Regions from separate parts of the Homo sapiens genome. Here region 2 is linked to region 1. The links come from fine-mapping of genetic effects on gene expression. A gene starts in region 1. The other region holds a variant in brackets. All regions are shown on one strand. Distances are from middle to middle. Region 1 holds the start of COL8A1 (collagen type VIII alpha 1 chain). Region 2 overlaps LOC105374007 (a long non-coding RNA gene).

Region 1 (8,392 bases):
GATCACACTGTTTTCCAATCCAGAAATCCTTGAAAACTCAAGGATCTCATGGATCAGGTATATTATTTAGGGATAATGTAAAGCTACAGCAGGTGAGAAAGACACTGGGCTCCTCGGACACACAGAGAAGACATCACTCTTTATGTGAATCCCATATGTCACCCTGGCCACACCGTGAGAGGGTCCTGCCTTCCTACCCCCTTCCTACAACCATACAGGACACTCCAGGGAAAACTGGGCTAGAACCACTACTGTTTCTGCCACCTTGCTCAGGCCTCCAAGTCTGCAGGATGCAGACACTCTGTTTTCTCTATTTCTAAGTATGCTATCAGTCTGAGATGCACAGGCAAGCATTTATCTGCAAAGCCACAATAAAGACCCTATATTCAAAGAAAAATGAAATCTTGAAAATATGCCACTTTCACCATGCCATTCTATTGCTCAAAAGTCTTCATTGATTCTGCATTGCCTACAGAATATAGTTTATACTTCAGACTACTGAGGTGACCTCATCCCTCCTCATCCCTCCTCTCCATTTCTCAGCCTCATTGTTCTACCACATGGACCTTTCTATACAGTCATGCTGGCCAATTCACCACCTTCTGAATATTCCTGTGATTTCCCTGGTTGCACACATATCCTCCCTTGCCTGGAATGTACTACTGTCCATCACTCGTCTATTCAAATGCTACTTTCCATGGCTCAGCTCAAATGCCACCTCCTCCCTGAAGTCTCTTTACTAAAATTCAACTATCAGGATTTCATGCTTTTCTTCCTCTGTGAGAAAAGATGTCATATTTTCCTCTGCTTTGAATACCTCACATTGTCTGATATCCATTCTTAATAAATATTTGTTAACTGATTAATTCTAAATAAACTCCAAAAAAGGGTTACATTTGCAAAGCTCTCAAAAGTAAGGTAATGATCTGTAGCTGTTATAGCCACACAATGGAAACTTCAGAGCATCTAGTATGTTGTCATTGGATTCCTTTCCTTCCACAGAAGACCAAACTAGGTCATTTCAAACCTCAGTCACCTTCAGAGAGATTCTAGGAAGGGCACACTAAGAGTCAGCAAAGAGACGACATTCCTGGATTCCTGACTTGTTGTCCAGATCTGCTACTGAATCAGATTCAGGTAAGTGTGAATGGGAGAAATGAACTAATTATTAGTGCCATCCAAAAAAATGAAAGCAGTGCTTTTGTTATGTTGGCTGGTTTGAAAGGAAGAAAGAATTAAAAATAAGAAGAGAAATTCAGCCTACAGCCATCAATTGTCTTTTCTTCAAATGTGCTTTTCTTGCCTTTCTGGTATTTTTTTTTTTTCATACGTATGTGATGGAACTGGAATGTTTGAGAAGAATTAACTTAGGATAGAAAAGATGATTTGTTGTAATCTGATAAGGGTATTTACTAACATACTTTATCACCCAGCTTCTCCTCTAAAAGTCCCATTTTGTTTCCCCAGAACACATTTCTTTGCTAAATTAAAAAGTTCCAAAAGTGGTATTGTGCTTGTAAAATCACATCTGATTTCAGCGTTATGTCCAAGAATAGATAATGCAGTCCTATTTCTAGGTCTAGTAACAAGTGTTACTCGTTTGACAGACTTCACTCAGTAGATTTGGCCACATCCTCAAAAGACATACTATTTGGGAAGAGGAAAACTGAGTTATGGAGGGTAAGAAGAGAGTAAAACCAAACAGCAAACGGGCAGAAAGTTGATGTGAAAGTTTTAGCTTTCTAAGCATTCATTAAACTAACAAATGCTGACCATTCTCTATTGTCAGTCCTCAATATTGCTGTTTATTCAATTAGCGAGACTATACATATTTATTGAGCACTTATTTTTTACTAGCTAGTAAGCCACTAGTTATAACTTTGTGCAGCCAAAAAATTATTGAATATAATTTGAATAGGGAACATAGAGATAAAAAATTATAAAAAGGCGAATAATCAATAATGCAAAACATCGTGAGTAAATTTGAAAACTCTGGTGTCAAATTTGTGTTTACGATAAAAATTTTAAATTTTTTATTTCATATATGATTGTTCTTGCCTCATATCCCGGGCACATGGGAGTTTATTTCGTTGACTCCCAGACGTAACCAATTGAGAATAAGCTTAGTTACAAAGGAAGTAATTGAGGCTTTGAGCTCTTGAAGCTAACAGATGGAAATACGTATGTAAAAACCTAAGTGCTGTGTAAACTCGGCACATATGGACGTAGGTATTATTATTATCCAAATGGCACTACTGGGTATTTTCTTAATAGATTCTTTTAAAATGCTTTTTTATAGTTGTGGGCCTTTTTTAGACGAATAGTTCTTAAGAAGAGGAGGGGATTTTGTCCCTCAGCGACATTTGGCTAAATCTAGAGACATTTTTTATTTTCACAGCTGGGTGGCGAGTGCGGAGTGGGTACTGCTACTGGCATCTGGTGGGTAGAGGCCACGGACACTGCTTAACATTCTACAGTGCACAGGAGAGGTCCCTACAACAGAGAAATATTCTCCCGAAAGTTTCAGTAGTGCTAAGTTTGAGTAATTCTGCTCTTCACCATCAAGTTTCCTTCTCTTGGAGCCTGCTACCAGCCAATGACATCAGGATCTAACCTGAGACGAACCTAGGTGTTCTATACGGCAGCCTGGTGTACTGAAGAGTGCCTAAGGTTTGCAAGCTCGCTAGCTGTGGCTCCCCCTCTCGCTAGCTTGAGCTAGTTATTTAAACCCTTAGAGATGCCTTTCTTTAAATTAAAAAAAAAATAAATAAATCTGCACAATATGAATCATACCTACCTCATAAGGTTGCGGTGAACACTGAATGAAGTACATATATACATATTCAGTACAAGTTCGTTCCTTTATTATTTCCAGCCTACCCATCCCTCCCCCCTCCCATTCCCGCCTTTTCCCCCTCCCGGTACTGTATCTCCCACCCCAAGTCTCAGGTTCTCTTTTAAAATGCTTTAATTCCTTTGGTGGCAAAAATCAGGCTTGGGCTAGGAAGTGAGTCACCACTCAGCAGCGAAAGGAGCTTGTTTTTCTTTCTCTGAATGCATTTCTTAGTAATTTCAGACTGATCCTTTAGCCACTTGTTGGTTGAATCCTCTCTTAATGTTTAAGACACACTGAGAAAGAACTGTGGCACCAAGACGTTTTCCGATTGTTAGGAATGAGAGTGTTTTAAATACCGAAAATAACCAGAGGGCAGAGAGCTCTGAAATCCTACGTTACATAAGCAGATGCTGGAAGACCCAGGCTGGTTCTGAGGTTCCTGTCTCCACAAGCAAGTCCACGCGAATCCTCCCCGTTGCTGGATTTACTTTAATGCTGCCGAAGTCTCAAAAGGGGCCTCTGGATGCTCAGAGGACAGGCAGCGCAGGAACTTCCTTGTCAAATAAGCCTTGCCTGGAGGGAGAGGGATGGGGCGATTTTCACCCGCGGGCGGTGGGACGGGGCTGAGGGCTGGGGGCTGCCTGGCTCCAGGCCATGTCAGTGCCTCCAGCTCCAGGTCCGGGTCCACCCTGAACTTTGGCTCTGCTGCCCGGACGCCCAGCTTCACCTCCCTTGCCTCGCTTAGAAACCCTTCAGTTCTCCCGGACCGCTATGTAGCTTTTCAAATTCCCAAATTCACAGAAAACACCTTCAAAAGTCACAATCACCCACAACTCCCTCTGCCAAAAAATGTCATGCAAAAACGGAAAATACTCCGATTCCCCTTTCCTCCCAGACACTCTCTCTCTCTCTGTCTCTGCTATTCATTTTCTCCCCCACCTTTCCCCATCTGTGGTCAAGATCCCTTTCACTATTTCTAGTTCCCTCTCTTTTTTCCCTTCTCCCTCTCTCTCCCTTTTCCACTCCTTCCTCCGTTGTGACCGCGCTCCCCCTCCCCCCGCCCCGTCGTCTCTCCTCCGCCTTGCGGGCTCCAGTCTCTGCCCGCCCCTCCCCAGAGAAGAGTGTCCAGCTCCTCCAGAGGCTGCCCGCCCGCCGCTCCTTCCCTGCCCACCTACTATGAGGAGCAGCTCCTCCCACCTGCCCATAAAAGCCAAGTGCATGTTACCAGCAGCGGATCACAGCCCTTCCCCGATCCTCTCCGTGGGAGCCAGCGAGCCTCTCTCCCTGATCTTACGTGCTCAAGGTAAGACAGCACTTCTGCAGGCAGCTCACCTACCAGGGGTTGCTATGGGGGAATAAGTCACCCTCTGGCCAACGCGTTTGCTGTTTGGTTAGAGCTGATTCTTACGGATGCGCGATCCGCTGCTCCTTTAACTAGCAACTGGTTTGAAAACAAACTTCTGTTTGAATGGTAAAATAAAAGCTCCTTCAGGGAAGAAACAGCAGCATAAATATTGCGAAACCTTTCTCTTTTTAAATCACTTTTTCTCCTGTTGCTGACTGTTGCTTAGGTTAAAATGTATCTGTTTGGGGTGTTGTACTGACGTTTTTCACTGTACATATTTCACACATCAGTGGGGGCAAGGAAAACGTTGTCCCATTGTCAAAAATGTACTTTAAAAGAACACAGTTAACTTCCTAAAAATAGCACAGTCAAAAGGTCTGCTAACAATTTTGTGATGTTTTCCAAACCCCCAAGACAGCTTCTGTGAGTCCTTTAAAAAAATATCTTTCCAGGTTTTAGCGCTTGGAAAAAAATGATGTGAACGGGTGCCCTTTGCACGGGGACAGTAAGTAATCAGGTGGCTGGTAGATAGGAAGGAACAAATCCAAATTCACAAGCCAGGGTAGAATGTGCTCTCTCACCAGGCTATCTTTTCACGACATCCTAAAATGAGAATTACGATGGAACTAAGAAAGTGTATAAAAGAACTTCATGAATTTCTGTACACACACCTAAACATAAAGTGTTTCAATATGTTTCACAGTAAGAGAATAATACAGGCCAGATTATACAATACTTCTGTGCACACCAGATGGTTGTAAAGAAAGATCAGCGAGAAAGGCTTTGGAAGTTTTAATCCTTCTTTCCACCTTTTTTCCCCCGCATTTAGTAAATCACAACCTACCTGACTGGCATCCAATTATCAGAGATATTCAGTGTTTAAGCTACCCTCTTTAAAAGAAAATGATCTCTTCTTATTCCTAAGGTAGAATAAATGTGCACCTGTGAAAGGAAAAACATACTCCACAGCCACTTCTGTAAAACCAGACACTTGGTCCATGAAGTTTGCCATCAAATTCTGTGGGTTGTGTGGGATGAAACTCTCTCAAGTGGGAGAAAAACCCTCTTCAAATGTTTCCTCTGGGGAATTGCTCAAGACCACTTAGAGAAGGCAAACCAAAAGTACCAGTCAGGAAACCAAACCACTCTTTTAGCCCTTAAGGTTCTTAAAGTAAGAAGAGAAATGTTTCACTTTTTTATTTTTTTGTTTGTTTATATTATCTCATGTGGAAAGAAAAAACTCACCGAAGCTGTATGAAATTCTCCCCTATTAAAGAAACAAGACTCATTAGAAATTTAACTTAGGTCTTCCAAACCATTTCTCCTTAGCTTTTGCATATCAAAAGTAATAAAAATATTTAAAAGTTCTGCTTGAGATGGAGAGGATTCAATGCTGTTACTCAAATGCAAGAGTTATATATAAAGCTTCTGTCACGTTAAATTTTTCTTCATTGGAAAAAAATATTGCAAGAAGTGCAGTTTCCTTTAAGCAAATTATATAAAATTACTATTGGCCAAGATAGTATGTGACCTGAGCATATTAACATACCTTTTATCTCATGCCACAATGCAGACTGCTTGCTTTATATCTGATGCACATAGGTAATCAACCATGACAAGAGTACAGGTATGGGACAAGGCCAGACCAAGTATGTGGCACATTCAAGTTAATTCTTCTTTTATGGTAGTGCCTGACTCACACCCATTATCACAAGGATGAAAATACGCTGCTTCATTCACCAGATCCCCTTGAGGGAAGTTATCTTTTCTTGGGGTGGAGGGGGAAATGCTCCCAGTTTAAATGAGCTTCCAGTTATTCCTAAGTTTGGGGATAAAAGTATTCTCCAAGGGTTTACTTCTGCTTTCTCTGGCAATTAATCCACCGGACCAGCTATGGACCGTTAAACAGTAACTGCCTTCCCTATGTCCCATCAAGTTCAAGCCCCTAAATAACTGAGTGAGATCATCTTAGATTGCTCATGATCTAAGTTTCCCAGGAGCAAAGCTATCCTTTCTCCATAGGGTACATACCAAGCAAGATGACACTGCTCTTCTTAAGCTTTTAGAAAAATCAGTGTCGAAGTTTCATGTAGTCGCCCCCAAATCTCCCCTTCTGCATGGGATGTGGATACTTCACGTGAGTCTCCTCTTTTTGCCATTATATAGCTGCCTCTTGATCAAGTCCATGACTATACCCAACCAATGCCATTGAGGCAGACTTGGGAGGACTTCTTAATGTTTCTCAGAAAAGATAAGATGAGAAGCTGCCGCTTTCACTAGAGACACAAGAAGGGAGCTCTACTGATTTTGAGGGCTTGCTGATCCTACAGAAATGTGCATTTTAGATGTTCTACTACTGTCAAAATTATAAAATGATATCCTTTTCATGATCAGAAAACATATGCCACTTTATTCCTATTTATGAAATAAAAATCAAGGAGAAGAGGATTGGGGTGAAAAGGGACTTGAAAGAGAAGCTGGAGGAATCACAGAAGTGCCCTAGGAGAAAAGCAAGATTAGGAGCTCTGTTACGAAACGCAACTTCTCCCAACCCTCATTTATGTGAACATGAGGGGATGGGGAAGAGCAAAAATCCATGTCTGCTCTTGTCTTTTTATTTGTTTGTTGTTTTTTAATCAATGAGAGTATAAGATCCATCTCTACTATGCCCTTCTTCTTAGCCCTCCTTCTTTAGCAGAAAAGAACAGCTTGGTTCTAATGATGAAAATGATTTCAGGTTTGCCCCATATTTAAAAACCCACAGTAATTTGCTAGTCATAATTCTAAAAGCTATACTATGAGTTAAAATAAAAAACTCCTTAAAACATGTTTTTAACTAACAGATGGGTCACGTCAACAAAACCAACCCTAAGTCTCCTGAAAAGTGTAATGTTGAGTGCTTATTTGTAAGTTAAAAGTTAGAAACAGCAATTTACTCCTTATCCATGGTTACTCACTTTGGTATGGAAACTTGCAGACAGATTGAGACACACCGTATTTCCTAAAACCTCTGGTCCTCCAAGTAACCCTCTGGGAGCTAGGTGTTTCTGCCTTGACCTCCTTCTCTTCAACCAGACCCCTATAAACATACATGTACATAAGTTAAAGAAGGTACAGATCTTGAAACTTGAGTGTATTCTTGTGAAAGGTGCACTGGTCTAACTATTGAGTGAAAAGAAAACCAAAAGGAGAGGAGAGGAGAATTAAGGGGAGAATGAATGCCCTTTGGAATTTAGAGAATCTTTCTTTTTAGCATTGTGTGAAAAGGATATCTCAATCCCTAAAGCATCTGGGAATACACATTTATTTAAAGAACCTGTTCAAAAGTTGTCACAAAATGCTAAGAATATAATGAAGAAGATCTTCCAGTGACCTGGCAGATATTAACAGCAGGTTACACCCCACACTACTAAATTATAGCTCTATTAAACTTCCCCTTTCTAGAGAGATAAGGAGTGAGAAGTATGAGCATTAACCACATTTCAACACAAACAGAGAAAAGCTGCTAATGAGAGATCCCTCTATCACTTTAGTAACTCCATTTGTTGTTTGAGGGAGAAGGTTCTTCATAGTTTTTCCTCAAGCAGATTTGCAGGAATGGGGTTAAAGGGAGTCACACAAGGTTAGAATGTCTACAAGCCTGAAGTCGTGTGTACTCAAATTCATGAAGCCATTGAAATTGCATCAGATCAAACTGAAGTGAATAAAACAAAAAGTGTTCACCAAAACTGATCACAGAGTAATCAATAAAAATAAAAATAATGAATTCTAACTTCTCAATGTAGGATAAGAGCAAAAGCAACAACTTTAGCTGACTATGTAAAATATGAACACACACCTGACAATTCACCTTCGGTGTCCTCTATTTATTTGGGGCTCACTTCCATCGTCCCTCCTGGACAACAAAAACTGACCCTTCTCTCCTTCAGCAAACCTTTCAGGATGTGCAGATGCAGTCATAGTCCCTCTGTGACATTTCCTTTGTTCTTTCCCTGGAAAAAATCTCTTTTTAATTCTCATAGAACAAGTTTCTAAAGAACCACTCATACTTGTGGCTTCTCTCATTACCAAAAATTTCCTCATACTTCTCTTAAATAGGATATAAATTTTCACCCTATCAAATGTAAAAGCTTCACATTTTTCTAAACTTTAATTCACATACCTAGAAGAAAGTAATTTAAAATTGCTACTTGCCTCCAACAGAATATCTG
Region 2 (8,392 bases), 96 kb before region 1:
AAATCAGCGGGGTAGATAACAGTATCATCTTTATCTCACAGGTGAGGGAAATGGGGTATGTCACATGTCTAAGGTCCCAGAACTACAAAATAGCAGAGCTGGGACTTGAACCCATGTTGCCTAGTTCCAGAACTCAGATTCTTAGCTATCAGATCATATTGCCTCTCATGCTTACCAAAGCATAAAAAGTCAAACAGAAAAATGAAAATCCAGTTTGGAGGCAGAAATTTCTCTTAAAGTACTGGTAATTGCTCTTACAGGAATCTAGAAATATCCAATATCTCTTTCTGGGGTCCATGGTGGGTGCACAGGACTCCACAAAAGGTACAAAAGGCATCTTTCAGTTCCTTCTGGTTCATAGACTCAGTATTGCTGTGCCACATCAGGCAGCAACAGGGCTTGCTGCACTTCCTACACTTGTGTGAGAAAGAAGTTAATGTGCCTTTGGAGCAATCATTCCCTGTTGATAATAAGCTATGTCAGTTAGGAATTGTGTCTCTTGGGCTCACTGCTGTACCTCCAGTGTATAATAAAGTGCCTGACTACAGCAGACATTCAGTCACTATTTAGTAAAGAGTTAATTCTGTCATGTGTATGTATCACATGCATGCCATATATGTTTACTGTGACTCTATCGTGAATGTATGCTTTTATTTTATTTTATTATGGAGACTGTTTTCCATAATTGTGAGTTGATAGAAAACAAACATCATACTTGACGAAATACCTAAATGAGTGCAGACTAGACTGTAAACATTGCATTTTTAAAGGAAGAAGGAATCTCTGCTTTAATCTAACTAAAATTAATCTGACAAAACTGTACATTTAATGGAAAATGGTTGAATAAAATATAGATGATATCTCTTTAAAGCATTTTTAATAAATTGGGGGCTCAAAATAAATTAGAGGTTCTCATTATAATTTAGAGCTGCCAACTATTTATTAGAAAGATTGACTTTGGTGGATATAATTTTTATGATACTATCTTTACTGCCCACATATTTTTGAAAAATATAGTCTATTAAATAGGATAATGATTCCTATTGAAGACTGTACCAAAATAGTAAAAAAAAAAAAAAAAAAATCAGTTGAATTTCATCCAGAACCAAAAGAGATTAAATTTACCTCATCCCTGGATATGGTGTATGGTATTTGGCTCAAATTGCATTTTTGCAGTAGGGTGGAGTTTGAGATCAAAAATACCAGAAAATTATGCATTTGTTGAAAGCCAACTTTCTGGCAACTAGGGTAAGCATTGTTTTGTCCTATTTCTGTGGAATTTTGGTCATATCCCAGCTATCAAAGAATATTATTTATTCCTACAGAACTATAGCCTCAAGAAAGACAGATATCGTATTTGCAATAGTCCTTAATTTAAATGTCAATTGTGTTTCTCCATTCACTGAAATAAAAGTACATATGGATAAACCAAGAGAAAACATTATACATTTAAACCCTTCACTTTAAAAATGAAAAACAAACAAAAGAAAGAGGGTGACAATTGATTGCCAGTTATACTGGCAAATCATTAACATTTTAGAGCTAAAAAAAAACCTTGAAAATAATTGTGGTTAATACTGAGTGTCAACTTGATTGGATTGAAGGACGCAAAGTATAGATTCTGGGTGTCTCTGTGAGGGTGCTGCCAAAGGAGATTAGCATTTGAGTCAGTGGACTGGGAAAGTTAGATGGACCCTCGATCTGGGTGGGCACCATCTAGTCACCCACCATTGTGGCCAGAATAAAAAGCAGGCAGGAAAAACATGAAAAGACTAGATTGGCATAGCCTCCCAGCCTACATCTTTCTCCCATGCTGGATGCTTCCTGCCCTTGAACATTGGATTCCAAGTTCTTCCGTTTTGTTACTTGGACTGGCTCTCCTTGCTCCTCACCTTGCAGACAGCCTATTGTGAGATCATGTGTTCGTGTAACTTAATAAACTCCCATCCTATTAGTTCTGTCCCTCTAGAGAACCCTGACTAATACAATAATCTATTCCTATCTTCTGGTTTCACAAACAAATAAATGGGGATAGTAAAAAGTACAATGATTTATCCATGAAATCACAACTACTGAAGGACAAAGCTGAGACTAGGACCCAGGTGTTCCATTTGTAGTCCAGATGTGTTTCATTGTTCCATGCAGTCCAGCTGCAATGCTGCCTTGTGCCACTCTTAGGAGATCTTGCTCAGTAGCATGGCATACTCAGCCTCTGGTGATAGTTCTGTGACTGGCTTTAACTTGAAGATACAATGCAGCTCCCTTGGAACCTGGCACCAAATGCCCTTGAGTCTGTGTATTGTGGTTATCAACACCATTGCCTGGACTTTGTTGGGCATGTGGGAGTTTAGTTTATTTTCAATTGTGTCATTCACTCATGACAGCCTGCATCAAACACATCATGGCCATGTATATTTTGTGCTATTATATAATAGAGATCTCTAAGAAACTTATCTAAGAGTTATTTTTTTCTGAGTAGTAAAATTCACTATATTTGCCATTGTCTGAAAAGAATTCTCTCTCAATCCCTTGCCTTCATCCTCTTTCAAAAAAAATCACATCTAATTTTTAATGGAGCATGAAAATTCCATGATAGAGCAGCACATATGAGAGTCAGAAAGACAAAACTCTGGTGTAACAAGTAACCTGTAAAGACTTGAGATGACTTCTTTGGTGCACCTAATCCTGTAATCCCATCAGTCACCAAACCAGAAAGGTCAATCCTGATGGTGTCAGTCCACCAACACAAACTTTGTTTCTGATGATATTTCTGTCCATTCAGCTGAAGTTTTATCACACAGGCTACCAGCAGATGCTTGGTTGTTCTCAGTGATGACCTGATACTGTCATGTCCATGTTCATACGTATCATCCCATTTACATTCTCATTTAGAAAACAAATTCCTTCTAAAATAAAGAATTATGTCCCATTTACTTTATCTCTTTCATTCTGCAAAACCTGGAGATGAATAGACATTATGCCATTCGCCACAGCCTATAGGATTATAATGAGGAAAGCCACCTGAGTTAGAAGTAAATCCAAACACTGTTTCATAATTGTTCATTTTCCTAGAATTGATAGAAGCACCATTTAGAGATGCAAGAAGCAGGGCAGTTGAAGTAATCATCAGCCTAATTGCCTCAACCCTTGGCTTTGTTTGAGCCCCAGGGGTCCACTTTTGGGAACTGACAGACTTAGATTGTGATGCCAGTCTGGTTTCTTGCATGCTTTCACTCAACAAGCCCCTTCATGACCACATGCATTTGATATCCACCAAGAGGACATAACATCTGCTTCCTCTCAAAAGTTCCATGTAATTTGTAGAGATCAATGGGAAATAGTCTCTGAAGCACAGAGCTATCAAGATTATTACTGTAAATTCCTAATTCTACCTATTTCATTTTAATAGAAATTCCAGTTTCATAAAATAAAAATTATTGGTAAGAGAGACTGGGGTGACATTTATAAGTCCTTTATGTAACATTTTATAGCTTTACACATAATTCAGTAATAAGAGGAAAAAGAAGAAACATTCCATATTTTCTCTCAAAATTATTTAGTCACATATATTCTTAATAGAATTCTTAAGAGAAATTATCAATTTTCATGAAATGACCTTAGTTATACCTTTGGTATAAGGATATTTTAAATTATATTAACAGTTTCATATTATAGTTATTGATAATAATGACAAATAATTCTCCAAAATATTCTAGCGGAAAACTGGAACTTTATTCCCTTTTTCATATACTCAAAGCATCATTCACTTCAGTTATTGCTATCATAACTTACAACTCAATAACGATTGTTGTGGGCAGCAAGCCACCCAGGCGCCGAGGCAAGAGACCAAGGACACGAGCTGTTCCAGTATAATAAAATATAAAACAAGAATAGTTATACCAGATATAGATCTTAGATATGATTATATATGAATATCATTAATCATTAGTTTCTAAACTATTTATAAGAGGTAACTAATACATAATAAAGTGAGCAGATGAGGTGCAATAATATCTCATCCATATCTATATCTATAGTGTTTATCCTGTATCTCAGGAATAGCAGTTAACAGCACAACTCAGAATAGAAACCCCAGTGTGAACCCCAGCCTAAGTTTCAGGTTGAAGCAGAATTAACTGACTAGAGTGGATGAGTGGAGTTGGTCTTTATTATTAGTGATCTGAATTTTTTTTTATTAAATACAATCACAACCATTCATGTACGGTGCCAAATCTTGTGCTAAGCCCTTTACATAGAATTTCCTCATTAATGATTATGTACTTGAAGCTCTAAGAAGTAGATCACACATAAGTAGCAAAGCCAAGAGTTGAACCCAGGCTCTCTGAGTCCAAGGTCAAGATCTTAATCTCATATGTAAATAGGTAGGTAAAAATTTAAAAAACTCAGGAGTTCAAGGCTGCAACGTGTTATGATCTTGCCACTACACTCCAGCCTAGGCAACAGAGTGAAACACTGTCTCTAAAAAAGCAAAAACAAAACCACACCATATTCTATCCCTTAATACATTCTAATAGCCAGAAAACTAAATGGTCAATTTCAAATAGGCAATTTGAAAAGAAGTACAAATGACTCTGAAAGTCAGAAAAGCTGTCGAATCTCTACTAATCAGGAAAATATGAATTGAAACAGCAATGTATTATCTGTTTTATCATCCATTATATTTGGATGTAAGTGTTAAAAACATTAACAATATCTGTTTTGGGTGAAGATGCTGATCTTGCTATTTCCTGTTATGTTCTGGAGATTTTGGAGAGGTGCCTGTCTCCCCTTGTCCTGGCAGCCTGTGACACTGTTATCACATTTCCCTCCCTCTGCTAACACAGAAAACCCCATGGCTAGCCCCACTATGTGTGTTCTAAGTTGAAGGAAGATATCACATCTGAGTTCCCTTTCTACTGAATCAGAAGCCTCTAGCAACCTCTACTCCTTCATTGTGACAAAGTAGCAGTGGGGTTTCAAGGTCTGACTTACCTGGCATTTATTCCAGTTCCAAGACTACCACATGCACCAGCACCTGTGCTGCAACCCTGCCCCTGAGGTCACTTCTTTTTCACATTCCTTTCTATCGATTTTGCAAGGCCCATTCCTTGCTGCTTAATCTCACTTCCTCTGACTTAACCCATTTCCTGTCTAGTACCTGTTTGCTCCTCCCTTCCTCTG[G/T]CACTCAATGTCCTTGTCTGCCTTATTTATAGTGTCTGCAAGATCTTCCTTTTCCCCTCCAAGCTTTCCTGGCTACCCTTGTTCCGAAGACCTGAACACCCTAGTTTCGCAACTTTGGGAATTCAACAACCAGTAAATTTTTTGTAAAATGTAGAGAATTGTCAGAAAACTGCCAAGTGTCAATTTTGCCAAGTTGGCCCATCAAAAATAAGAAATACCATCTATCATCACCCTCATTTTGTGAACAACAAGCATTTTAAGTTTAAAAATGGGGAAAGGTCATAATCTCAGACAATAAAAGTGTTTCTCAAAGAATACCAATTAAACAACTTTGGGTAGAGGAGAACCCTGATGTGGGGGAGGGATCTATGACTAGAAGAAGCTGATGTATTAGAAAACAGTCTGTCTGTCCAGCACAGGGATCCTCTTGGAAGTCAAAGCAAAACCACTTTTTGCAGCCCATCCCCACATCCTCTCCCACCTCAAGGTCCCTTGCTTGAGTTCCTCATCTGCTTATGCTAAAGGATCACATTAGCTGCTCATCTCTCTCAGAAAACACCATGCATCAACAGCTGCTGGCAAGCCACGGTGGAAGTGCCAGCAAAAAGATGCTCACTCATGCCTGGAGTATGCTGCTCTCCATCAGAGACACTACATAGACCCCTCATTGTGTTCTACAGCTTAGGGTACTTTAAGCCCCTCCCAAAGAGTAGAGTTCTTGACAGGCAGAGAGGCTGTGGAGGTGTGGAGGAAAAGCCTCAGCAGAAGTATTAGGGTGAAACTAGACAGTGGTGTCCCTATAGTGCTCATTTCATCAAGGATATGTAACTGTCCATAGAAAGGTTTTTAGGGCAATCACTGGCACGTACTTCAGGGTAAGATTTTAAATCCAAAGTGTTCTAATTATGGAGAATATGTTTAGGTGAACATAGTTCTTGAAATGCAGCTCTTTTCTTATAATCAAGTAAATTTTATTATTCATCCTGATTACTCATCAAAAATTTGTTCCAAAATCACAAGCTTAAGTGAATAAATGGCTTTTTTTGTTGTTATTAAATGCCTAGGTTCTAAGGTGTCAACTACTAGGTTCCAAGGTTTCAGTCCTCTCTTGTTATCAGTGGGGGATTGGTTTCAGTAGCCCCCACAGATACCAAAATTCGAGGATGCTCAAGTCCCTGATATAAAATGAGATAGTATTCGCATATAGCCTATGTACATTCTCTCATAATCTTTAAGTCACCTCTAGAGTAGTTATAATATCTAATACACATAAATGCTATGTAAGTAGCTATTATACTGTACTACTTAGGGGATAATGACAAGAAAAAAAGTCTGTACTATTCAGTACAGATGCAATTATTTTTCCGAATATTTTCAATCTGCATTTGGTTGAATCCATGGGTGTGGAACCGCAGAAGTGCTAGCAGATTTTGACCTGCATGTGCTAGCAGTAGAAATATCCTCACCCTCTGACTCAGGGCATCAAATCTTATACTTCTTATCAGGAAGCAGTGAAAGGAAATGGAAGGAACAGAGATAGGCCCACGGCCAAAAGGGCCTGAGTTATGAAAAGAAATTGGTCAACTTGGTCTACATGAGGATATCTGGGAAGGACAAACTGCATAGATGTCCCGCCTCCCCACGTGCCAAAGAAATATTAATGGTGTATTTGCTCCACTAACATTTGGTAGCAGAGGCAGTGTCTTGCCCCAGGCTTATTGCTAAATAATACAGAAGCTAGAAGGAAATGTAAGAAGAAAGTTGGGAATGTGAAACATGTGGTGAGGTCAGGACACACACACCCACATGCCCACACAACACATGACTATGTGGTTTTTTTCTATCACTGTGAACACAACTGCCATTTCTGTCACCATCATTAATTAAGAATGAAAATTCTTAAAACTTGCTGCACCATTCATCTGTAGAGCTAAGTAGGATTATTCCGGGCTTTCAGCCCAAGTTTTCTAAAAGCCTAGCTGATTAAAAGGCATTAACATTTGTGTTTTGCCAACACTGATTATACTGATTGCTGGCAAGTGTTTATGTGATAACCAAGACCTAACAAGAGAGATGCAGAAAAGCACAGTGAGCATAACACTCGTATATAAGAGATACCCACCAGTTGCTGAAGTAATCGCTTCTTCCTTGGCAAAGGAAGAAAGTTAACTCATCGTGGTCTTCAAGGCACCTTCTAGGGCTAACATTTTATGACTCTGTTGAACAGAAAACTTTTCAGAAGGCATCTGCCGAATAACATGAATAAAAATGCTTCAAAGGCTAGTTACAAATTTTAAGTACTCCATACTCTATTTTTGCCTCTTTTCCTTCTGTTTCTTACCCTGTATTCATTTTTCATTAATATTGCTAAACAAAGAGGAGAGAAAGAGAAGTTTTATTAAGTCAAATTTGATGGGATAGAAAGTTGAAGTTCTGAGATTATGCACAGAATTTTCCCACGTTTAGATTCTCTGAAATATGTCTTTCTTCAGTGGCTTTGAACAGGAAGAGTTAGCTGTGATTTGAACCTTAGCAAGCTTAAAGATTGGTTGTAAAAGCACCTCTAAAGGAGAATGCTGGCAGAAAATGCAATGAACTTCTGCTAGAGACCTCAACACAGCTGAGAATCTGGAAATTTGTGCTATTTGTGATAAGAATTTAAGCAACCAAAAGTCTTTTGTTTTTTGAAAATGAAACAAAACAAAAAGCAGCGACTTGCAAGTATACAGGAAGCTTATCTCCTTCAGTTCAGGAGTATTTGTTTGCCAACTAAGGGTTACTTTTCACAAATGTAAAGTTAAGTCAACAACTTTCTTGGCATTTATGACACTATATATAAAAGAGCCTGTGAAATATGAAATGAACTTTTCAGGTTTTGAAATTGATACACCAAGATTAGGAAAATAAACCGTTTGATGAGTGTTTTGCTGGCTCATTTAAACTACATTCCCAGTCATAACTCTTGATTTCCCAAGCAAGGAAACAGAAAGAGAAAGAGAACACAGTATGTTCTGAACAGAACTGAGTGCTCCTTGCATGACTTAGGAGTTAGATCCACGTGAAACATTTATGCTTACCATTACTTACCACTCCCATTGTTACTATTATTAATGTTGTACATTAGAATTAAGTAGTTTCCAGAGTGCTTTCATATATTTTTTTCTCATTTTTACATGACTTCCCAATACTGTGATGTAGATTAAACAGGAAG

The links.
Region 2: its variant is fine-mapped to the expression of COL8A1 in skeletal muscle (GTEx, PIP above 0.99). The same link has a PIP of 0.9 or more in subcutaneous fat and thyroid.

What each region holds. Positions count from the first base shown.
Region 1 is chr3:99,634,526-99,642,917 of GRCh38, forward strand. It overlaps COL8A1 (collagen type VIII alpha 1 chain), which reads left to right and starts at 4,069. Exons shown (of 4, transcript NM_020351.4): 1 at 4,069-4,139. It overlaps LOC124909401 (a long non-coding RNA gene), which reads right to left and starts at 4,155. Exons shown (of 2, transcript XR_007095981.1): 1 at 4,062-4,155; 2 at 2,843-3,409.
Region 2 is chr3:99,538,215-99,546,606 of GRCh38, forward strand. The region is part of intron 1 of LOC105374007 (a long non-coding RNA gene); the gene reads right to left. LOC105374005 (a long non-coding RNA gene) reads right to left here. Exons shown (of 5, transcript XR_007095985.1): 1 at 7,304-8,392. Among named protein-coding and RNA genes, the nearest start is that of COL8A1, 96 kb to the right of the region's middle. The variant G/T (reference allele first, on the strand shown) is at 5,182.